2 linked regions of the Homo sapiens genome follow. The protein of the gene in region 1 interacts with the protein of each later gene in a pairwise test. Each region holds a gene or a part of one and is shown on either strand. Other genes may lie near its edges.

Evidence for each region.
Region 2: the proteins of CNIH1 (region 1) and LRRC59 interact in binary tests that used the Homo sapiens proteins (3 or more experiments, as listed by UniProt).

The regions. Positions count from the first base shown.
Region 1 is NC_000014.9:54,425,401-54,442,216, forward strand, and holds the start of CNIH1 (protein cornichon homolog 1), read right to left. Parts: upstream 15,975-16,816; 5' UTR 15,928-15,974; coding exon 15,847-15,927; intron 11,038-15,846; coding exon 10,969-11,037; intron 6,821-10,968; coding exon 6,708-6,820; intron 5,005-6,707; coding exon 4,861-5,004; intron 2,442-4,860; coding exon 2,414-2,441; 3' UTR 1-2,413. UniProt on the Homo sapiens protein: Involved in the selective transport and maturation of TGF-alpha family proteins.
Region 2 is NC_000017.11:50,386,663-50,394,523, forward strand, and holds part of LRRC59 (leucine-rich repeat-containing protein 59), read right to left. Parts: intron 6,236-7,861; coding exon 6,077-6,235; intron 5,841-6,076; coding exon 5,736-5,840; intron 1,471-5,735; coding exon 1,398-1,470; intron 1-1,397.

The sequences.
Region 1 (16,816 bases):
CCTAAATGAACAGCTGTTGCTGCACAGGGAATGTTTAACGTAAACTGAATTATAAACCCAGGCTAACCATGCCTCAGCTGAACCCACAGGAATAATAGGCTAGGGCCACCCCAAAGAGATTGATGTGGAAAATAAATCCAGAGCAATGAAAAGAGCCAGTCGGATATTGTCAGATTCAAGTATTTCGTTTCTGCTTTCTCTTGGTAAGTGATCTAATTCATAAAACACTGACATGGTAAAAGTGGGTAGATATTAGGAGAGCAGGTACTCAATCTTTTAATCACTTACATGCCTAGGAACTCACAAACTACCACAAAGATGGGTGAAACTCCCTGTCAATCATCTTTGAGGAATCAGCTGAAGACTACATATCTTATTTGGGAAACATGAGAAAATGGCTTCCACAAATCCCAACCAGTAAACTTACTCCTGGAGAATATTCTGGAATAGATTATTAAAAGGATGTTTGTTAACACTTATGAAGTAGTGTTTGCTAAGAGAGGCAGGGTTCACGAAAATATTTTGACAGGAATACTCAAGTAACAGCCCCAGGAAACCCATCTGGATTATAGAAGACTTGGCCAGGTCTTGCATGATCAAAAGTCCTTGTGAACAAGAAAGAAAACTAAGTGCATGCTGATGTAATCAGGTGGACTGGAAACTGAATGACTGCCTGTGCTCAAAGCATGAATCTTGAGAGCCCAGCAAGTACTCAATAAATAATTTGTTACATGAACTGACCAAGAGTCAGATCCCTCTAGTTCTCCAGACTGTGAAATACAAGGTCTTTAAAGCTTTCCTTGTTATGGAACAGTTTGAGTCTCTTCACTCTTCTGGTTCTAAATCTCTTCCTCAACATACTCACCCCCATTACCCAGAATAGTTAACAGCTACTCTCTCCCAACCATGGGAAAGCACTGAAATAAAGCACTTTTCACTTAGTAGAGAATAAAACAGCATCTAATCCAACAAGTTCATAGAGTAAGATTTCCACAAACGCATCCATAAACTTCCTTGATCATGTGAAATTTCTATATATTGGTTCTCTTTCTTTTGATCCTCTTCTCAAGAAACTTCCAAACCACTTATTTTATTTTCAACTGCCTTAACTTCCTCATCCCAAATAAAGCACAAGATTTATTTATGCTTATGAAAACATGCAAGCCATAATTTACCTGCCTTACAAGCAGCAGCAAAAACTCAAATTTACAAGCCATTTTACCTTAAAACTGACTGTTCCAAAAAGGAAAAATCAAAGTAAAATATTTTAAGTGCCACCATAATTTTTCTTAATTGGTAAGAGAAATGATGATGCTATGCCATCCACGTTTATGAATCTTGTCAAATGACAAAAGAGGTTAATGTGCTCGGCATTTAAAAATTTTCCTTTTTAGATCTAGGCATGGTATTTTTCAGAAAACCCATAATGTAGTACGTCACTTTTTAAAAATGACAGCAACATGTCTTTATCATGGATTAAGCAAGTTTAAGAAATACTATTTTTAATCTCAAACAATGCACTGAAAGTGAGTCTTAATTTCAGAGTTTTATTGTATTGCACTAAAGGAACAGCAGGATGGTTATACAATTTTCTCTCATTCAGTTTTGAAAATCTGTAGTACCTGCAAATTCTTAAGAATACCTTTACCACCAGATTAGAACAGTAAGCATAATAACCAATTTCTTAATAAGTAATGTCTTACAAATAAAAACACATTTAAAATAGCTTTAAATGCATTCTTCACAAGTAATTCAGCATATATTTTTATATCATGTTTACTTATGCTTAAGAATTAAAGCAAGTATATTTATTACTCTGATGGAAATATGGGAAATCTCTCATTCATGCAATATACAGGGATAATATTCAAGCGAAGGGAAAATTCCCGCTTTTTATTTTTGTAAATGTATCCATATATAATCATCGACATGACAGATGAGGAAACCCATGAAGTTTCCCACTAGTCAGATATACATTTTCACTTCATCAGAAGCACCTGATATCTACAGCTAATTTATAATTAGATACTGTTTCAATGAAACCAAAATGAGCCCTACAAGTTCCTATAAACAAAAGCTTCCAATGTACTAGGACAGTCAGTAATTAATGCATCATTCAGAGGATTATGGCTGTTCCTTAAGAAGTGCAAGTTCAAACCTGTCAACACCAGAGGTAATCATTTTATATTAATTTATACGTAATACCATTTAAAATCTTTATCTGAGTATAACATATGAAAACAGTCTTTCCACAAGCAAAAATGTGGAAACATTTAAAAAATAAGGAGTCATTTTTTAAAGTAACTGATCAGATTCCACAGGCTACTCTTGGACAGGATCTTGCTGGATAGAATCCCTTCATTTGGTGGCTTTTTGCATGCACTTAACTGGACCAATTCTTCTGTGTGTTGTTCTAAGAGCTCACCAAAACATAGATCATGCTGAAAAGAAGAAAAAAGATGTTAATTTGAACATTACTAATTATTAAAAAAAAACTCAGAGCATGAGAGAGTATGCTTTATATAGCAAACTAGTATCACAGAAAATGACAAGACTAATGACAAGTTCACAGTGATTTTAATTTGCATTTATGGACTTTTGCCTAACATATGACTTGGCTCAGTGCATATGCTGTAGTTGTCCCCTATTCCCTTCCAATTTTAGCAAGTAGAACGGCACAGCTGAAAGCTTAATGGCGGATCAGAGCTTAGAGAAGCCATCCAAACATCACACACTCTGGAGTTGTGTCTAATAATAGAATGAGTATCTCTGGAGGGCTCACTTCACGCCAGGCCCTGTTAGGTCTCTTATATACATTACCTTGCTTAATCCTTCAAGGAGTCCTAGAAGGCAGGTACCATGTGTATCCCCATTGTATAGAAAGGAATGATCAATCAAGGATCTTTCCCATTACAGAAAGGATCTAAGCAATAGCAACTTTTAGGAAGTGGTTAAAAAAGAAAAGGGGGGAAAACAGCAAAATAAAAGGCAATGACCTTTTGATTTAGGTTTAAGAACTGCCAAGGGCAATTCTACAGAGTGCTATGGGAACGGCATAGGGGCATGATTCAAAAAGCACATAACTCTAAACAGAAATACAAAGGAGTTGAACAAGCTTGATAGACAACCTTAAAACACAACAAATGTCCTGGTGCTACCATATCCTGCTGAACATTTTCCCACAACTGCACATCTCCAACTTTATCATTTATTCAATCATTCATTTCATTTCTTTCATTCAACAAATACGTATGAAGTGCCTATCATACACCAGCCCGTTCCAGACATTTGCTATGGAAACTTATGAAATGAAAATTAACAGGAAATTAAAGTGACACATAGAATTTCACTTTTCAGAGCACTTCTTTGTTTCATAGATGAGTAATATCTGCATATGCACTAAAGGATACTCATTTTCACAGTAATAGCCTCTAAAGGCATAAAAATACCAAAAATACCTTTTTCCTAAATTTCAGTCTAACCATTCATCTTTTCTATGATGGAAACTTATGTATGAAGAGAAATATGAATATGAATATAAGCCTATCTTAGCAAGTTTTCAAGTAATGAAAAAGAGAAGGGAAGCTTATGCTGTTTTTTAAAGCTTACAGCTTTTTTGGAAATATTCTGAAAATCAAGGAGAAAGTCCTCTCTAGTTGAGTATGTATTAATAAAAAATGAGAAAGTATTTTATATAAGTGATGTGTAAAAGTATATTCACATAGCTTAAAGAAATATATAATTCTACATTTAACAGTGTCCTTTTCTAGTTTTAATAAGCAGTCATTTCACTGCACCTACAACACACCTACAGCAGTGGTTCTCACCCAGGGCAATTTTGCCCCTCAGGACATCTGGCAATGTCCAGAGACATTTTTGGTTGTCATGAGGGGGCAGGAGGGTGCTCATGGCAACTAGTGGGTAAAGGCCAGGGATGCTGCTGAACGTCCCATGATATACAGGACAGCTTCCCACAGAAATTCCCACACAGCCCAGAAGCGTCAACAGTGCCGAAGCTGAGACACCCTGACCTAGAGGAACAATGAGTCCATGAGAGTATAAAAGGAAAAAAATCAGGCTGGGCGCGATGGCTCACGCCTGTAATCCCAGTACTTTGGGAGGCCAAGGTGGGCGGATCACCTGAGGTCGGGAGTTCAAGACCAACCTGGCCAACATGGTGAAACTCTGTCTCTACTAAAAATACAAAAATTAGCCGGGCGTGGTGGTGCACGCCTGTAATCCCAGCTACTCAGGAGGCTGAGGCAGGAGAATTGCTTGAACTTGGTGGGGCGGAGGTTGCAGTGAGCAGAGATCGCGCCACTGCACTCTAGCCTGGGCAACAGAGACTCCGACTCAAAAAAAAAGAACAAAAATCGGAAACTGCACCACCCTGTAAGGTAGAACTACTTCTTTCATTCATACCACTCAAATCAAGCAAATCAGAAAATAAAGGGCAGAGCACACCACTTATGAAGAATGATAAGGAAAAAATGAAACATAATGTCTGGAGAGACCCTGAAGACAAGCAGAAATTTCTGCAAACTCACACATCCCTATCCTTCAATGACATCACTTTGCCATGGAGAATGAGGACCATCCTTTACTGACTGAATGTGTCTGAAAACTTATGAAGCAGCATCCCTGACCAAACCTTCTGCCTCTGATGGCAGGCTGGTTTACTGCCTTGACAAGCACCAGTGTGGGCCACACTGAATGTGTGCGAATTTGCTGGTGTGCACCATGCACACTTAAGACACTAAGTTATTCTTCAAATGGATTTTGAGGTGTGAAAACCATAATGCCTGCAAACTTTTAAAGCAGCAAAGTGAAAGCATATTTCATTTTACCTTTTCAACTTACCCATATAGGTAGTAAAAAAATGCTAGAAGATAAAAAGCTAATTTGCACCATCCTTCCTTCTGACAATATGCTAGAATATCTGCATTCATGATGGTTGTAGGGTCATAGAGTCCTGGGCCACTCATCACTGGTCTACTCATATACCTGGAATAAACACAGTCTATTAGGCATTCAGAAAGGGCAGTAAATGTTCAGATAAGAAAGCAGGTCTTTCTTCTAAAACATCTGTTACGAGAGGTGGTCCATAAAGGGAAGCATTCTTTTACTTATGGGTAAAATGCTTTCCTTTTACCATCTTAATTTTAAAAGTAGAGCCCCTAAATGAGCAGAATGAGATAGCTAAACAAGTTTCTTCTAGTCTCTGCCTTTTCAGAAATCCATGAAAAATAGGAAGAACTGTAAAAAGAAAATAGGTGTTTTGTTTTTACTTATCTTGGCATAATTTTAGACTTACAGAAAAGATACAAGAACCTTTCACCCAGATATTCCAAATGTCCATTTTTACTATATTTGCTTTCTCCTTCTCTTTCTCATTCTGAGTACTGGTTTTTTTTGGTTTTTTGTTTTGTTTTTTTGTTGTTGTTGTTTTGAGACAGGGTCTTACCCTGTAACCCAGGCTGCAATATAGTGGTGCAATCTTGGCTCACCACAATCTCAGATTCCTGGGCTCAAGCAATCCTTCTGCCTCAGCCTCCCAAGTAGCGGGGACTACAGGCACACGCCACCATGCTTAGCTAATTTTTTTTGTAGAGGGGGGTTTTGCCACGTTGCCCAGTCTGTTCTCCAACTCCTGGGCTCAAGTGATCCACCTGCCTCAGCCTCTCAAAGTGCTGGGATTACAGACATGAGCCACTGTACCTGGCCCTGAGTAAATTTTTTTTTTTTTGAGACAGAGTCTTGCTCTGTTGCCCAGGCTGGAGTGCAGTGACACGATCTTGGCTAACTGCAAACTCTGCCTCCCAGCCTGAAGCAATTCTCTGCCTCAGCTTCCCAAGTAGCTGAGTTTATAGGCGCCCGCCACCACTACTGGTTAATTTTTGTATTTTTAGTTGAGACAGGGTTTCACCATCTTGGCCAGGCTGGTCTTGAACTCCTGACCTTGTGATCCACCCACTTCGGCCTCCCAAAGTGCTGGGATTACAGGCGTGAGCCACTGCGCCCGGCCAAGTACATTTTTTTCTGAATCATTTCAAAGTCCATTGTAGACCTGATAACACTTTACTTCTAAATACTTCTTCAGTATATGTCTCCTAAAATCAAGGGCAATAAGGTTTTGACATGCCTATTTAAAACAAAAACTTCTAACTCTATATACGGCAGATATTACTATGGAAGTTATAAAATATTATCTTTTACAAATAACCAAAATTAGTCATAAACACAGAAAGAAATTAGACACATACTGTACATTTTGACTTACCTGAAGTTCAAGGACAAGCAAAGCTAATCTAAGTTGATAGAGGTCAGTGGTCTTGGGAGGTGTGGAGGGTAACTGACTTAAGATGGGGCATAAGTGAATGCTCTGGAGGCTACAACTGTTGTGTATCTTGATCTGGGTGGTAGTTTAACAGGTGTATACGTATGTAAAAATTCATTGAGCTATATACTTCAGACTTGTGCACAACACTAAGTTATACTTCACTTTTTAAAAAAATTCCTTTAAAAATAAAGTAAGCTCTATATGAGGTATTGAAATAGTTTTTGTTCACCCACTTGATTTTTAAAAAAATAAATGCCAACTGATCTTCCATTTTTATGTAGGTGACTAGCATGTAAGATAACCATATCAACCACAGTATATTTAAGTTTTAATTTAAAAAAATATTAAAAGTGTATCTAAATATTACCTCCAAATATGATATGCCAAGAGGGGCATATTGAGACCCAGTGTAAGCCACTCTGCTGCACAAAGAAACATGACACAGAAGAAAGCGTGGATGAGGTACTCTGGGAGTACAAGCTGGAAGGAAAACACAAGCCAGTTATCAAAATGCCTCAGCATTAAGTCAACTACTAATCTGGAAAGCAGGTGGCAACCAAGTTTCCATAATGAAAAATCACTGTTTTCTTAGACTCAGAAATAAAAGATGCTACTGAGTTTTATTTCCATGTTTAACTTTTTACCAAAAGTAGGATTACAGGCAAACTGACCAGAGCATATAGCTTGCACTAACATAGTAAGATACATGACTTAAAATTCAAAGCTCAAATCCTTAGAGAAACAGATCAAATTATATAAAGTTACCACCCAGATTGTTAAACAATATGCTAGTCAACTAGAATACTTTTTCTTTTCACCATTCAACAATGATAGAAGTACAAAAATGAGATATCTGATCACATGCAACATATTAAAAATTCCACAGAAACAAAACTCCCCTTTGGAATTTTACATATCAGTGTTTTTAAGCCTTTAACAAAAACCAGAAATGCTACATACACAATATTTAGCAAACCACATTGCATTCCCACAGAAGTAATTTTTTAATGGAAAGCCAATCAGCCAATAATCTCAGCACAGTGAGGGGAAGAACACTAATATGCGCAAATGTAAAAGATTCGCTTTCTGCAATGTAGGAGGGAAAAGACTGAGTTCTTAACCATGAAATTAAGATTTTCCAGGTTCCCAAGTTCTCATTCTTAGGTGGCCTTTCCGTTTCTTTACCCCTGCTTGCCAACAAAATGCTACAGACACAACAGAAGACCAGTAGAAGCTCAGAACCCAAAAACAAAATAAACCTTTTGGTACTAGGTAATATTAAGTGAAGAAAAATTAATTCGAGCAAAATGCTTTTTATAAAATGACCAGGAGTTAATGCTTTATGTTAAATTATCTTTCTCATCCTAAAGATTTCAGCCTGAGGACTTTGTTAAATAAAAATACCAAAACCTCTCATTGCAAGTTTCAGCCGAAGTATCTCCTGTAAGTCACAGCTACAAAGCCAGTTTCTCAAATGTTTACTTCATACCAAATGGAAATCATATGAATACTTATCATCATCAGATCACTCCTGAGGGGAAACCATGGCTGTAGATATTGTAATCACACTACATACTCAGACCCATTTTCTCATACTCCCAAATTACTCTTTCCAATTTAAAGCTGTAGAGGGGACTTTCTAATGAATACTATTTTTAAAAAAAATCCAGGTAAACAACTCATCTACACCACTAACCAAATATTTTCTACAAACTTAAGCAATACAATAACAAAGGATAAACTCGGCATATGTACCTAAACTTCTAAATAACATTTAAGCCAGCATCTATTTAAGATCAAAGTTCTCTAAACAAGAAAAGGGCCATAGGACTCTGAAACTCAAGGACTATAACCAGAACAAACCAAGAAAAATATACATTTTATTAAGAATTCCACTAGAGTTGCTTTTATAATACTTGTTTAAATTACAGACGTTGTCTTTAAAATATAAGCCTATTTCAGCCCTAAAAAGCCATCTGATACCTAACAAACAAATCCTCATGCAAGGTTTTATCCTACACTTACAGAATGAAGTATGGAAAGAATGATTTTGAAAGCATGAACCCCTCCCGCTCTTAATATTACTTTAATAAAAGTGTTAATAAAGATAATCTACAACTCTACCAGTTCTAATATGAAACAATGCCATTCCCTCCCTTCTCCTCAAAAGGAGTCCAGAAACATTTACTACCCATCTCTCTTAAAAACCAACCCTCTCCGAGCATTCTTTAATGACAAAATTTCCCCATAAGAGACACAAAAATTATTCAATTTAGGAACCAAGGTTCAAACAGAAACTAGTATCCAGAAAAAAAACCTCAAGCAAATATGGCTGAAATGATAACATTTAAACATGCAAAATATAATATTCTCTTGTTAAAGTTCACAATTTAAAAAATAGTGATATTTGTCTTCCCCCATACTTTGGCAGAACTGTCAAAACAAATTTAAATAGGGAAAACTGTCAGATGCACTGCTATTCAGCCAATTATTGGCACCCTATCCAAAAGGCAACCTGTGCTGCTATAAAAACGTCCTTCAACCTCCTGCAGCATTAGGATGTCCCAAGCACATGTCTCTTCTCAGTGAGAATTTCTTTCCGTTAAGAAAAGCCAGGAATCGCACATTACCTGTTAAAATGAAACCTGTCCCTCCTAAATTTACAATACATTAGGAAAATACAAGAACTTGAGCTTCAAAAATTAGGCTGTCTTGAGTTCAAGTTCTGACTCTATCTTAGCTGTATAACATTCGGCAAAGTGCTTTAACCTGGCAAAGCTTCAGTTTACTCTCCTATTCATGAGATAACAATTTACCTACCTCAGGATTGTCATGAGAATTAAATTTAAAAATTCAGGCAAAGTGCTTACCACAGAGCCTAGCACCCAGGAAAATCCTCATCTGATTTCAAATATTTTTACCTTCATCATCATTTGGTTATTGAAGTAATGAAAAGACAAACAGCACAGAATACTATTAATAAACAGCTATCAAAAGGGGAAATTTCAGTTTCTTCATTTCCTGGTAACAACTTCAACTACTTAGGTTAAGATGTTTTAAAATTAACACTTAATGCTTTCCAAGAGAAGGCAAATTCATCTTCTTATGTCTTGTTTCATAAGAGCAAAGAAACAGCTAATAAGTTAATACTTTTAATTGTACCTACATCAACTCTTACTGTAACAGTTCTCTAAAGACAAACTAGAAATCTCTTCCACCATCCACATTTATCTGGGAAACAATAATAAAGTACCAAACTAACTTTCTAGATGCTTTTCCAAATAAAATCCCTCTAGCACCTAGTGCTAGTACACTAGTATGCTAGACAATTAAAATCTACACAAACTCTCCCCTTCGTTAAGTAATTTTTAAAGCTGAATTACTGTATTTTATTTCTTGAAGACATACCCACTGCTTTCTTATAAACAACCAACCTTTCAATTACTGACCAGTCAGGCAAAATCAAATACACAGGCTAAAAGAGTATCTTCCTAAATGCAGGCAAAAATACAAAAAAACAAACTGGGTACCCTGGTGTGTGCCTGTAATCCCAGCTACCCAGGAGATTGAGGCAGGACGATCACTTGACCCAGGAGTTTGATAAGAGCCTGGGCAATATAGAGACACCCCCATCTCAAAAGAAAATTTAAAAATACATACATATATATTTTTTCAAAAACCCTAAGCACAATGGAGCTACATTATCACTAAATTCATGATGGCTCAGAACTCAGTGTAATTCAGGCCTGTTTTAGAAACAGAAAGTAGATACACACTAGAAATAACCACATAGACATTTGTATACAAATTGTTATCTACAAAATTATGGCACCCTAAGTCCAAAGAATGGCATTGCTGCGAGATCCCAGAGCCCCCAGAACAGAGCTATCCACCTAACAGGCTCTGAATAAACATCAGCTGAAAGAATGACTCATTTATTCCAGAATATGCAAACCAAAGATAAAACTAGATATGGCAGATAAGTCCATACTAAAGATTTCACTCACATACTACCTCACAATAAGTCACAACCCGAGAATCATCTCACCATCTATTAGTCATTTTATGTTAACCAACTTTCAAGTACTACACCAAATAATTTCACATAGAAGTGCCTATGGCTATAACATAAAAAAACGCATACGCATTTAACAGCTTTCCCTACTTGACTGGGCCAGCAAGCATATATTTGCATAAAATATGAAATTTCATGAAATCATAAACCTCAACAGGCATATGAACGAGCACACTGAACAAAACGTTACAAATACAAATGCCCTAACCCTCCCCATGAAATGAATATAGCATTAAAACATTTAACTAAAAAGCAGTACACACCTTTAATGCAATTTTGACTCTTTTAATCTTTTTGACCTTTTCAACTGTCTTTGGCCGACAATGTAAAAAGCAGATTGGAAGAATGTTAGTATGACAGCTGACAAGATCACCAGCAGATTAATAATAGAATAGTCAAGCACGACAGGAAAAAGAAGATTTTTTAAATTCTGCCTACTTCAAAAAGTACAAATATATTATGCTACTCAGAATACTGGCCATTTTCAAATTACTTCAAGTTAAAAACAAACATATTTTTAAAATCTAAAGATAAATCCTATATTATAACTTACGGGATTCAGGGTATTACACTGGTCTATAGGATTCTTGTAATCAGTCTTCAGCTCATCAAATGCTATAATCTAAAATAAAATTAAAACAGTTAGGACCACTCACTTTAATTAAAAGCAGCAACAAACCTGCCCCATCTTCAAATAATTATTAAAGTTAATAAAACAAGAACAAAAGTACACCAAGATCCCAAATACCAATTTACAGTAAACTCATATATGACAAAAAGAACCAGAATGCGATTTAAAGTGAAAACACTCTTATCTCAGTATCACTAAAATTTGGTATTACTGTAATAAATACCTTCAATTTTCAATTTCGTCAATGCCTCTGCTCAAGTTATTTCAACTTATCTCTACTCGAAATAATCTTCTGAGTAGAAAAATAATTTCAACTGTTTATCCAAATTCCTCTTTATCCTAAAAAAAAAACAAACCTTCCTAGGTCAACTTCTTTCTGCAGGCTTTCCTAACTCCTTTGGGCAGAAGTAATTGCCCACATCTCCACACAGCATGGGACTCTATAATGCCATCGATATGGCTTTTCTCACCCTGGAGTGTGGTATTTACACACAGGTCTGTCTGCCCCTCTACACTCTCAGGGAGAAGGACCATTTTTATTTATCTGTGCATGCTCCTCCTCCCTTGGCACAGTGCTCAGTGGGACACTAGAGATGGATTCGAACTCTTCAATGTGTTCCCATTGGTGCCCAAACACATACATTTGTAAGGATGCTTTTGTCCACACTCTGGAGGAATGTGGCTTCAACCTCAAGGGTCACTAGAATGTACATTAAGAGTCAAAATAGGGACTCTGCACCACTTTGTGGCATCATTTCAGGTGACAAAGAAAGAAAACAAAGGCAGCAAGTTGATGGGGGAGCCATTTTAGTTGCTAACACTACTCACCCCAGGGACACACAAACTAAGCTACCCTTCCCTTAATGAGTTAGGAATAGTATCTTTATATGTGAAAGTGTTGCTCAATATTATCAGTAATCAGTAAAGTTACATATTTCCATCTTTTAACATGACTGTTTATTTCCCTGTTAAAATTTAGATTCATAAAAAGACGGTTTTTTTAATTTCTAGAGTTCCATAAAATTCACCCACCTGCCCTAATAAAAACTCCAACCAAACAACAATAGAAGGAAAATAATAAAACATTAGAATGTAATCTCTGAAAGAACAAAGATTGTTGTATTTACTATTATGTCCCAGGGCCTAAAATATAAAATAGTGCCTGGCACATAGTTAAGTGTTCAATAAATATTAACTGGAAGGAGGGGGTGAAAAAAATAGCACTAGGGATTAAAAAAAAAAAATGCAGAACTCACCAGGGGGATTTCCCTTGGCTAATGACACCTAACACAAATGTTAAAAACATACATGTGTAATTAGAAAATACTAATTTCTGATTACTTATGGACGTTATTAGTCTGCTACTTGACGTCAGCCGTGGTATATAACCCCAATGCATTTTAGTAATAAAGCTCAAGACAAGGATGATAATCATAAGTACTTGTCTATAACAAGATCCAACTTAACAGAATACAAAACTTGTCTTTAAAACTGACATTTAATTGGACATTTTCTCCAGGTGACTTCAAGGGTTTTTTTTTTTTTTTTCTTGAGACAGGGTCTTACTCTGTCACCCAGGCTGGAGTGCAGTGGCACAATCTCGGCTCACTGCAACCTCCACCTCCTCGGCTCAAATGATTCTCCTGCCTCAGCCTCCGGAGTAGCTGGGACTACAGGTGCATGCCACCATGCCTGGCTAATTTTTGTAGTTTTTGTAGAGATGGGATTTTACCATGTTGCCCAGGCTGGTCTCAAACTCCTGAGCTCAGGTGATCCACCTGCCTTGGCCTCCCAAAGTGCTGGGATTACAGGAATGAGCCACTGTGCCTGGTCACAGGGATTTTTTAACTATGTTGTTGAATGGGTTTCTCTTTGAGTGCTATAGGCTAGGGTTTTCGAACCTCTTCTGAGAATATTCTTAATGATTTTCAAATCTTTTTGCAGCTATGTGGCTGAGCAAAGACACCCACAAAATTTCCTACAGAAGTATAACAAAAATAAAACAGATAAATCCCTAAAGATGCCCAAGTACACAATTCAGAATACCTTCCAATTTAATACACATCTTTAAGGAATGACTTTTAAGCTTTTAATTTTTCAAACAATCTATGCTCCCGACTCTATTCTCCACAGAGCATCAATGACATGAATTAGGACTAAATTGACAGATATAATCATCAGCATAAAAAACATTCTCTAATACAGTGATTAATGTAAATAAGATTTTTGGAATGTAATTTAAAAATTGTAAAATGAGTCTTCTGAAAGATACTTCAACTACCTGCTAGAGTTTGGTTTAACTCCTCCAAATCTCAGGTTGAAATCTGATCCCCAATGTTGGAGGCGGGATCTAACGGGAGGTGTTTGGGTCATGGGAGCAGATCCCTCATGAATGGTTTGGTGTCATCTTGGAGGGAATAAGTGAGTTCTCCTGCCATTAGGACCCAAGAGAACTGGCTTGTAAACAGCGCCTGGCACCTCCCCCTCTTTTTCCTTTGCTTTCTCTCACTATGGGATCTCCACACACTACTCCCCCACCATGAGTGGAAGCAGGCTGAGACTTTCACCAGATGCCCAGTCTTATAGTCAGCAGAATCCTGAGGTAAATAAACCTCTTTTTTCTTTGTAAATTACTCAGCCTCCCGTATTCCTGTATAGCAACACTATAAACACTATAAAGGAATGGACTAAGATACTACCTAAGATGATAAACATAAGGTTATATGGGTAATAGAAAAATTAAAACTATCTATTTATTTAGAATTGTTTCCAAAAGGATACTAATTCTCTGAATGAAGAAATCCCTAAGCATAAAAGCTCTCCACGAATCTGCGGTATAATTTTTTTTTCATTGTATAACACGACTTAAAATTATTTACTTCACCCAGACACGCATTTGTTTAAGCTGAAATTACCCATTTTTTGAAAGTGCGGTTCAGGTTTTCCTTAAGCCAAACACAACCTGGTTCAAAACGTAAAAATGTGAAAAAGCCTACCCCACCACTCTAAGAATCCCCATCATCCCAGAAAAAAGGAATACCCATCAAGCAGAATGACTTAAAGCTACATCTACAGATGGAATGGAACCACACACTTTCTTTCTTTCTTTTTTTTTGTTTTTTTTTTGAGACGGAGTCTCCGCCCAGGATGGAGTGCAGTGGCGCCATCGCGGCTCACTGCAACCTCTGCCTCCTGGGTTCAAGTGATTCTCCTCCGCCTCAGCCTCCCGAGTAGCTGGGATTACAGGCGCCCACCACCATGCCCGGCTAATTTTTTTGTATTTTTAGTAGAGACGGGGTTTCACCATGTTGGCCAGGCTGGTCTCGAACTCCTGACCTCGTGATCCTCCCGCCTCGGCCTCCCAAAGTGCTGGGATTACAGGAGTGAGCCACCGCGCCCGGCCATGGAACCACACATTTTCATCAGAGGCCTACTAAGGTTGAGCTAGTCTGTATCCCAAATTATCTTAGGTATTGTTCTTCCATCAAAGCAGGGCTGAAGATGCTCTTCAAATTACTGCTCCTACTGACAAGCATTCTGAGGTAGCAGTTATTTCCGACACAGTTAATAGCCTACATAAGTATTCCTGATTACAATAAGCAGTCAGGTCCTAAAATAATTGTAAACATAATCACACTGCTTAGCAAAAAGGAATGGATTTGTGATATGCTTCCACTTTCGAGACTTTTTTGCACAAGACGCTGCTGCTGTTTAATCATTCTGCCCCTCCGTATGTTTCATAGAAATCCTTGTTACTGGCATGATGAAACCTGACTTAAAATCTACGTAAGAGTGAACGCGGTCATTCAAATTAAAAGCAACATTCCAGAAGGCACTGGAATATGGGGAAAAGAGAAGCAAGTATGAGATAAATTTTTAATGAATGATTTCCAGAAGGCTCTCAAGGCTTTTAATTTTGTGCTAAAGCAACAGAAATTCTTATCTCTGTAGAACTATGTCACAGGGAACTTACGACTTTTTCCTTAGAGGGACCAGTAAGGCTGTGCTTCCACCCTGCAATAGTGATGATGATGTGTGTAACAGAAATAAATACTGCCCCAGAAAAGCTTAAGGTTTCTGAGCATCTCAAAATCAAATGAAAACTCCCTCTACTAAATCAAGCAATCCTGAATATAAGGGTGGCTTGGAAAGCTGCCTGTTGAAACTCCAGCGGTCAAAGTATGATTTGGGGGGGAAACGCGCACATGCAATCAACAAAGTAATCAATTGAACTTGCATCAAAGTTCACCAGGAAACAACAATCTGGAAAAAGAGAAAAAAAGTGATTTGATTTGAAGAGCACCGAACAAGTGCTGAAAAGTAGAGTTGGAAATTCACCCTAAGTAGGTTACATTTTGGCCACAGTTCTGTGGAAACCCTAAAAGAAAGTCAATCTGTATTAACAAAAATTCGGAAAACTTCATTCACACTACGGCCGTCCCACCGCGCTGTCGACATCCTCCCCGGGAATGCAGGGCCGCGGGCCGGCAGAGGTCGGTGCGAACGCAGCGCGGAACCGCGGGCGCCCGCCTGGACCGCGGCCGCCCCATCCAGTAGGGGAGGAGTAGCGGTGCGCGCGGCCTGTGCCGAGGCAACGCGGGCGCGTCCACCTGGCGACTGCGCGCCCCGGCTCCTCCAGTACCCGCGGCCCCCAGACCCCTCGCCGCGCGGCCCGTGCCAGCCGGGCCGCATCCCCGACGCGCAAAGCCCCGGCGGCCGTGGCGGCCCGGACCGCGGGCCCGGGGCGAAAAGAGGCTGTGTTGCCGCCTCGCCCTCCTTTCCCCAGCCCCAGCTACTCACGTGCCAAATGGCGAAGAAGATGAGCGCGGCAGTGAGCAGCAGCGCCAGCATGTAGCAGAAGGCCGCGAACGTGAACGCCATGGCTGGGGAGGAGGAGCGGGGAGCGGCGCCGTTGCCAGCGGAGAAAGGCGGCGCAGGGCCCTCTGGGTAAAACCATTCACTTCCCCCGGCCACAGCCGCGACCGCCACCGCTACCGCCGCGGCGCCAGCCCTCTCAGCGCGCCTGCGCACCAGCCCAGCCGCCCCGGCGCCCTCTGATGGCCGGAGTCTGCGTTGCACTGACATTGTCCGCACAGTTGTTGATTGATTTTTCCTTCCTTCTTGCGTTTATTCTTTCAACAAATATTTATTGAATGAATGCCTAGTTTGTTACAGGTACCGCGCTTCTCGCTTCAGATACAAAGATGAATAAGATAGTACCTGCACTGAAAGAACTTAGTATAGTGCCGGAAATGAACACCTAAATAAATAATTACGTTATTATAACCCCGTAAACGGATGTGTGTGGGATGCTCTGAAAGGTCAAAGAAGGACAGCCAGCCCGCCCTGGAGCATTTAGGCAGGATTCCTGCTGTAGGTGTTTCCTAAGTTGGCCTTAGATGATGATAAGTTCTCCAGGCAAAAAGAAGGTAGAACTGGCAGTCCAAGGAAACAGTTCAGAATGAGGAAACGCAACAGAGATGGAAAAAAGAAAAGAAAAATAAAGCTTCGTGTCTCAGGTGAAACCAGCAGCAATTCTGTATTAATGGAACCTAAGTGCAAGACAGTGGTGAGACTTAGAAATGAATTAGCAAGGGATCAGATCATAGAGGGCCTTATAATGCTTCATTACGGAGCTCAGACTTCTTATCCCATAAGCCCAAATTTTTTGCTCACCACACACAACTAGAAAGATTTTTTTCATTGCAACCCAGTGGAATATCATACAGACATCAAGTTATGAAGAGGTGGAAATCTAGTTATAGAGGCA
Region 2 (7,861 bases), on another chromosome or scaffold:
TAAACACGGGTATGTCTTGCCACAGTGGCCATGCGTAATAAGGGATGGCTGTAACTTGGCACGGTGCTCTCAGGGACTGCCTGTAATCAGTACTGTACACATCCCTTCTTGAACCACAAGAGTCCTCCAGTGAGGGGCTCAGAAATCAGCCAGCCAGTCAACAGAGCACCTACTATGTGCCAGGGGTTATTTTAAGGGCTTGAGATGCAGCAATGGAGAAAACAGGCCACATTCCAGTGCCTATATCATTTACTTTCTAGAGAAGACAATAAACAGGTGAACGTAACAATGACAGTGATCTGTGCCCTAAAGAAACTAGCAGAGGGGCACCTGTAGTCCCAGCTACTCAGGAGGCTGAGGCAGGAGAATGGCTTGAAGCCAGGAGGCGGAGGTTGCAGTGAGCCGAGATCGTGCCACCGCACTCCAGCCTGGGCAACAGAGCGAGACTCTGTCTCAAAAAATAATTAAAAAAAAAACTAGCAGAGGGTATGACAGAGTGACAGGTAGAATGGCTACTCTAATCCAGTGGTTCTAAAAGGGTTACAGTTAACCTAAGGCAACATTTGAGCAGAGATGTGGGATTATGAAGCCAGCACTTAAAGAGACTAAGGGAAAAGGAAACCCAGCAAAGCCCCTGAGTGAGACTGCAGTTGGTGTACTCAAGCTGAAGTTAATGGCCCAGTTTCACTTGTGTGTGCAACAAGGCCGGTGGAGAGCAGGCAAGTAAGCTTGGGCCAAGGTGGGTTTTGCTGGCCTTGTCAATGAGTTTGGATTTCATTCTAAGTTCAGTGGGATGCCATTAGAGGGTTTTAAGCAAGTAGCAGCATAATTATTTATGTTGTAAAAAGATCTCCCAGACTGTTGTGAAGAGAATGAGTTTAAGGAGATGGCAGCATCATGGAGACATGCTGGAAGGCATTGTGATGGTCCCAGAATGGTGGCTGGTTAGAGATGGCACCGGAGCTGGAGAAACAGTCCCACATAGGACTTGCTGACAGATTGGATGTGGGAATTACAGAAAAAAAGGAGTCATTAACATCTTTCCTATTTTAGGCTTGAATAACTATAGGGAAAGTGATTTCCTATTACAGGGAACACTGGGAGGGACTGAAGGGCCATCAGGAATCTGTTTTAGCCACATTTCATATGAATGCCTATTAACCCTCCAAGCAGAGATGAAATATAAGCAGTTGACTGCCTCTAGAGCACAGCAGAGAAGCCAGGACTGAAGAGAGATTCATCAGATAAAGACGATACCATCCACCACAATACTGTCCCCCCACCGCCCACTAACTGTTCTTCATGACTACTCTACTGGATCCCAGCTCCTGAAGCATGAGAATCCACTGGCTGGGATGAGGACCTGAAAGATAACTACAAGAGGGACAGCCACCTACCACGTTCTACTTCCAGCCGCCGCTGCCTCTCCCGCTCCTGATCTGCCTGCACGGCCTTCATGTGCTGTAACACCTGCAAAGGAAAAGGAGGAAAGTAGTGCTCTTCATAGTCATGTTTGCTCAGGGAAGTCTCAAAAAACAGACTATTTTCAGGCTTCCAGATTATCATGGTAGCAATGTAGAACTAATAAGAGTTAGGCTGAATGTGGTGGCTCACGCCTGTAACCCCAACACTCTGGGAAGCCGAGATAGAAGGACTGCTTGAGCCCAGGAGTTCAAGACAAGCCTCGGCAACATAATGAGACCCTGTCTCTACAGAAAAATGTAAAAAATTGGCCAGGCACAGCGGCAGATGCCTGTAGTCTCAGCTACTTAGGAGGCCAAGGAGAGAGGATTACTTGAACCCAGAAGGTCAAGGCTGCAGTGAGCTGTGGTCACGCCATGGCACTCCAGTCTGGGTGAAGACTGAGACCCTATCTCAAAACAACAACCACCACCACCACCACCACCAAACTAATAGAGTTAATTGTATCTTTGTATCCTAAAATTACTGTGCCAACCTTAGTTGGAGAAGAGTGCTATGAGCCAAGGTCATTAAAACTGTCAGAAAAAAGTGAAACACAATGCCAACTCGAATCTGTAAAAAGTTCTGCCATTTACACTCACTGTCACATGCATGATTCCATATGACCCTCAGCAACAACTTGGGAACAGCATTTCCTCCAACACGCTTTCCTGACTGCCCCTCCTGTGGCTACCTTAAGTCCCCCTCCATCTACTCCTGTGGAATTCAACACAGGACATTGTAGCTACTTGCTACCTATCTGGCTTGGTCATAAGATGGCAGATTCCTTAATGGCAGGAACCGCTGTCTGGTCTGTAGGTATCACACAGGGGCGTGGCTAGCACAGAGTTTAGCTAATTGCAGGCATTCAATACATACATGAGGAATGGCTAATTCCCATTTCAAAAGGAAGAAAACCAAGACTCATAGGGTGATTTGTCCACTGCTAATGGCCAGAAAGCAGCACAGCTAAGACCTGAGCACAGTCCCCTGCATTCCTAGGGCAGAGCTTGTCGCACACACTTTCACCACATGCAGAGGAGAGCTCCGAGAGAAGCCTACACACAGCACACTTGTACTCGGCAATCTGAGCTCCCCAGATCCACATAAACTCGCTCATGGATGACCTCTAACCACACAATCACAAAGATTCTCGCTATGGTGGGTGGAGGAGGTAAAGACCTTTTCTGTTTGTATTTTTTTAAAGGTGGTATTCTTTGGCTGTAGGGGATAGAGTGTAAGCTTGGAGCCCAACGCAATCCTGACTACCCCTTATTGTATAACCTTGGCAAGTGACTTAACCTTTCTGAGCCGATTTTCTGATCGAGAAAACAGAGATAAGATATACTTCTATGGAGTGTTGTGAAGAATAAATAATATAACTTGTATTGGCTGCCTTGTATAATCTCTGGCATTATATGTGCTCAGTAAGTACTGCTGCTTATTTTCTTTACCATGTGAGTAAGAAAAAAGAAGAAAACCCAAACTATTAGCAAAAGGGTCTTGTTTTACTACTGCACTTAACAATTACATTTGAATATGCATGCGCACGAGACAGACATGTATATTCATATGTAATTCTTATTTCTAGAAAACTCCAGACACGCATACCTCCAGACAAGCACACACCCATCATAAGAAGTATTCAGGAGCAGACCAGCAAAAGGATCTCCTTTCAAAAGCCTGGTTTGGGCCAGGCGCGGTGGCTCACACCTGTAATCCCACACTTTGGGAGGCCAAGGTGGGCAGATCACTGGAGCTCAGGAGTTCAAGACCAGCCTGACCGATATGGTGAAACTCCCATCTCTACTAAAAAATACAAAAATTAGCTGGGTGTGGTGGTGTGCGCCTGTAATCCCAGCTACTCAGGAGGCTGAGGCAGGAGAATCTCTTGAACCCGGGAGGTGGAGGTTGCAGTGAGCTGAGATTGCGCCACTGCACTCCAGCCTGGACGATAGAGCGTGACTCTGTCTCAAAAAAAAAAAAAAAAAAAGAAAAAGGAAAGAAATCAGGTCTGGACCCAGAGTTAGGGCTCAGGGCACTCAGGCAGTAGAGAAGTTATGGGTCCCGTTGCCATGATTGCAGGGAGAGTGTGGAAAGTAAGAGTCCAGGGTGTTGGCTGAGGAAAAGGAGTGAGGGGAGTGGATCACCTGAGGTCAGGAGTTCAAGACAAGCCTGGCCAACATGGTGAAACCCCATCTCTACTAAAAATGCAAAAATTAGCCAGTCATGGTGGCATGCCCCTGTAATCCCAGCTACTTGGGAAGCTGAGGTGGGAGAACTGCTTGAACCCGGGAGGCGCAGGTTGCAGTGAACTGAGAGTGCGCCACTGCCCTCCAGCTTGGGTGACAGAGCAAGACCCCATGTCAAAAAAAAAAAAATTAATTATCTGAAAACACAGGCAATGCAGAAATGGGACAGATTGTCATAGTCTGGAGTCTGTGAGCTCCTGGAGGGTAAATTTTTGTCTAGCTACTCTAGTTCATAGCATACAGTAAGCACTTGATGAATACATTGAACAAATCATTTTTAAAAATTGCTTTAATATGTACCAAGCAGATTAAGACTAACCCATATACCCACCAGGGTTTAGGTCTTACCTGGTCAGAGCTAGTAAGACCTAAACTAATTCCTGCAGACAGACGACCTGATTCTGACTGGCCCAGGCCATTTCCCTACAAAGCCTAAAGGTGTGCTGCAGCTCTAGGACAGCTGTGCTAGGGACCATGGCTTTAGTTACCACATCCACTATGCTGCCTGGAGCTTTGTCTGAAAGACATATGCAAATACAAAAGGCCTTTGTACTCAATCAAAATTATTTTTGTATGTCAAAAACTGGAATATCATCAATTTCCTATGGTTCCACATATTACCTACTGAATGAATGGATGGATGGATGAATGAAAGGTGTGTATATGCTGAGGGTTTCTTGTGTCAGAGAAATGAAAGTAATGCCGACTCCTCAGGGCTCTGAGGATTGTGAGATGGTGCATGGAAAGCATCCAGGACAAGGAAAGAGTAATCAATGGTAGCTACTGTCAGCTTGCAGAACAGACATCACTCCTACAGCACCTAGTTTTCAAAAGAGGATTTCACTGATCACTTATACTGTTCTCATCTAAGGGAAAACTCTTGTCTTAGCTACTTGGTTAACTTTGTGCTTGATTTGTTGTAATAAGAGATGATACAGATGACAAGATTATATAAGAAGCCCTGAGCTAATGATAAGAAGTATCTTACTCTCTTACTCTCTACTTGAGACAGCAGAGACTCATCATTCACCCATGAATTCTAGTATTTAAAGTTAAGTCTTTTTTGTTCAACATGCACCTTAAACATAGCCAAGTTAGTCATCTGGTGCTCAGCTGAAGCAGCAGCAATCTGTTCCAAAGCTGGAGGGAAAAAGTGACTATAGTTGGAGTTATTAAGAGATAGGTGTAATGCTGTTCTTAATAGGTAGGGTACGGCACCTTCCAGGCTACTGACCACAGACAATAGTTGTCTTGCATGCTGCTTTCAGTTCCTCACTCCTATGTCAGATGACTCAACTGTAATCAAATACCAGGTCTGCCCAGGACGTGCCTGCTTACAGCTGTAACACCTTTATCATCGCTTTTATTATCAACATTCCTACGACTGTGCCTCAGAAAGGCCACAGCCCCTAACCCCCGGTACTATTAAAACAACTGTCCACACAGTGTCATGTTGCATCACGCAAGGTCCCGGCTCCTTAAGAGAGGAAGTACTGCAGTAGAGAAGGCAGTCTTGTTCTGCGACTTGCGAACTAAGTGCAGGCCAGGCATGGTGGCTCACGCCTATAATCCCAGCACTTTGGAAGGCCAAGGTGGGCGAATCATTTGAGGTCGGGAGTTGGAGACCAGCCTGGCCAACGTGGCGAAACACCATCTCCACTAAAAAATACAAAAATTAGCTGAGCATGGTAGCAGGCGTCTGTAATCTCAGCTACTCGGGAGGCTGAGGCAGGAGAATCGCTTGAACCTGGGAGGCGGAGGTTGGAGTGGGCCGAGATTGTGCCACTTGCACTCCAACCTGGGCAACAGAGCAACTCTGTCTCAAAACAAATAAAAAACAAAAAGATAAAGTAAATGCAGAAACAAAGGTCTCTGTTTGACAGGCTCATAGTGGACATATTTCACTCGGACCTGAATGCTTAACTCCACACAAAGCTCCAGGTGCCCTAGGAGGGAAAAACAGGAGGAGGAGAAATCCCAGGGAGTGTATAAGGAGCCACTGGGAGGGAGCTTGGTGCTTACCTTGTTTGCACACTGCTTACACTGCTTCTCATCCAAGCAGTCACCTGCCACCTTGGCCAGGACAGGATCCAGGGGGTTATCCTTCAGGTCCAACCACTTCAGGTTCTAAAGAGATGGGCGATGGGCAAAGAGGCTCATTAAGCCCGAGTTCACATACATAGTCCCTCAGGGTGAAACAAAATGAGCAGGAAGAATGCCCCTCTGTGTTCCACATATAGGGAGCGCCATCTGAGGCAGGACCAACAAGGGGGTATTTCTGTCAGCCTTTCTCAGGGCCGTGCTCCAGAGTCCCTGAGTTCTCTGCCACCCTGGCCATGAAACACTGGTTCATGAATTGTTACCTTGAGCTGAGCAAAGCTGACAGGCAAGGTGACCAGCTTGTTGTTGAGGAGATCCAGGTGCTGGAGGTTGACCAGACGGCCAAAGTCTGCTGGCAGCTGCTGCAGCTTGTTCTTACTCAGGTCTAGCTTCACCAGGTGTGTGAGGCCACAGAAATCCGACTAGGATCCAAAGAGAGAACCTAAGCTAGGCTTGTCCAACACACGAGCCACGACAGCTTTAAATGTGGCCCAATACAAATTTGTAACCTTTCTTAAAACATTACGAGATTTTTTTTCCTTTTTCAGCTCATCAGTGTATTTCATGTGTAGCCCAAGACAACTCTTCTTCTTCCAATGTGGCCCAGGGAAGCCACAAGATTGGAAACTCCTCATCTAAGCCTTGGGCTCACACACTTCGGTGTAACAGTCTGGAAGCCCTCAAGTCAGAGGTACCCCATGTAAAAATCCTGGCTCTACTGTTAGCAGCCGTTCTTCCTCAAATGAAAATGCAGAGAACACCTACCACACCTGGTGATAATTACCAAGATATGTATGGAAAAGGGCTTAGCACAAAGTAGGCACAAAACACTATTCCTTCACCCTCAGTTCTTGCTCCAGCCTACCCTCCACACTGCTCCTGGAGAGGTGTGGTTACCCATTCTGTCCTTCCACAGCACCCTATGCTCACCATTCATAGGATCTGTCAAAACAGCGTGCTCGTTCATTTTCTTAAAAAGATCAGGCACTCCTGGAGTACTCAGTCTGATTCTTGTTATTTGCAGCACCTAGCACAGTACTTAACACAGGTGCTCAACAGACATTCTGTGAATAACTAACTGAACGGGCTGGGGTCCATCCTACCCAAGTCCTGGCTCTTTCTCAACACAGGTCAAAACATCCCCCTGACATTAAACCTTTGCTAAGCACCCATCTGAAAGCGATGGTACAACCTCAGCTAATGAGGCACTATTCATGCTCTCTAGGGACTTGGAAATGCCAGTGGATCTGAAATGCAGAGTGAAATGGAAGTTGTCAGTACAGACAACAGAACAAGCTCAGATCGAAAAGTGCACTTGGCTGAATGACCATCTGGCAAAGTGTACAGAAGGAGTGCGGCTGCAAGGAATTGCTAACCTGCTTTTATTTTTAATTTTTTAGAGGCGGGATCTTGCTATGTTGTCCAGGCTGCTCTCAAACTCCTGGGCTAAGTGATTCTCCCACCTCAGCCTCCTGAGTTACTGGGATTATAGGCATGAACCACAGCTCCCAACATATTCTTCTTTTATTCAACACAAAATACTTTCTGGAAGAAGTGAGATCTCGATGCTTTTTGAATGTTAGAAACAGTTTTTGATGAGCTGTGACAAGGTACTGTGGACGATGAGCAAGGCCTAGGAGAATACTGAGAGGTGAGTGGACTAATAATCCAATGAGGACATTGCCAACTTCTGAATTCGACCTCTGAGCCACAGCCAGGGCCAAATAGGAAGTCACCCTGGAGTACAGCAAGGAGTGGCACGGCTAGAGTGATGGGTGGAAGTGGCAATAGCACACTTAGGCCTGACGGTGCAGGAGCACTACTATGTCAGAGAGGCTGAGGGGCTGAATGAATCCACTGTCTACACAGGTGGAGTGGAAGGAAAACTAGCAGACGTTGTGCAAGAAAAATAAAAAGGATTTGATCATGGATTGAATGTGCTGACCACATTGAGCAAATCTCAACTAATTCAAGTCCTTTGGGAGAATAATGATAAGGTAGCCCATAAAATCACCTTCTTTCTTGCTCCCCATCAAAAGATGCACAAG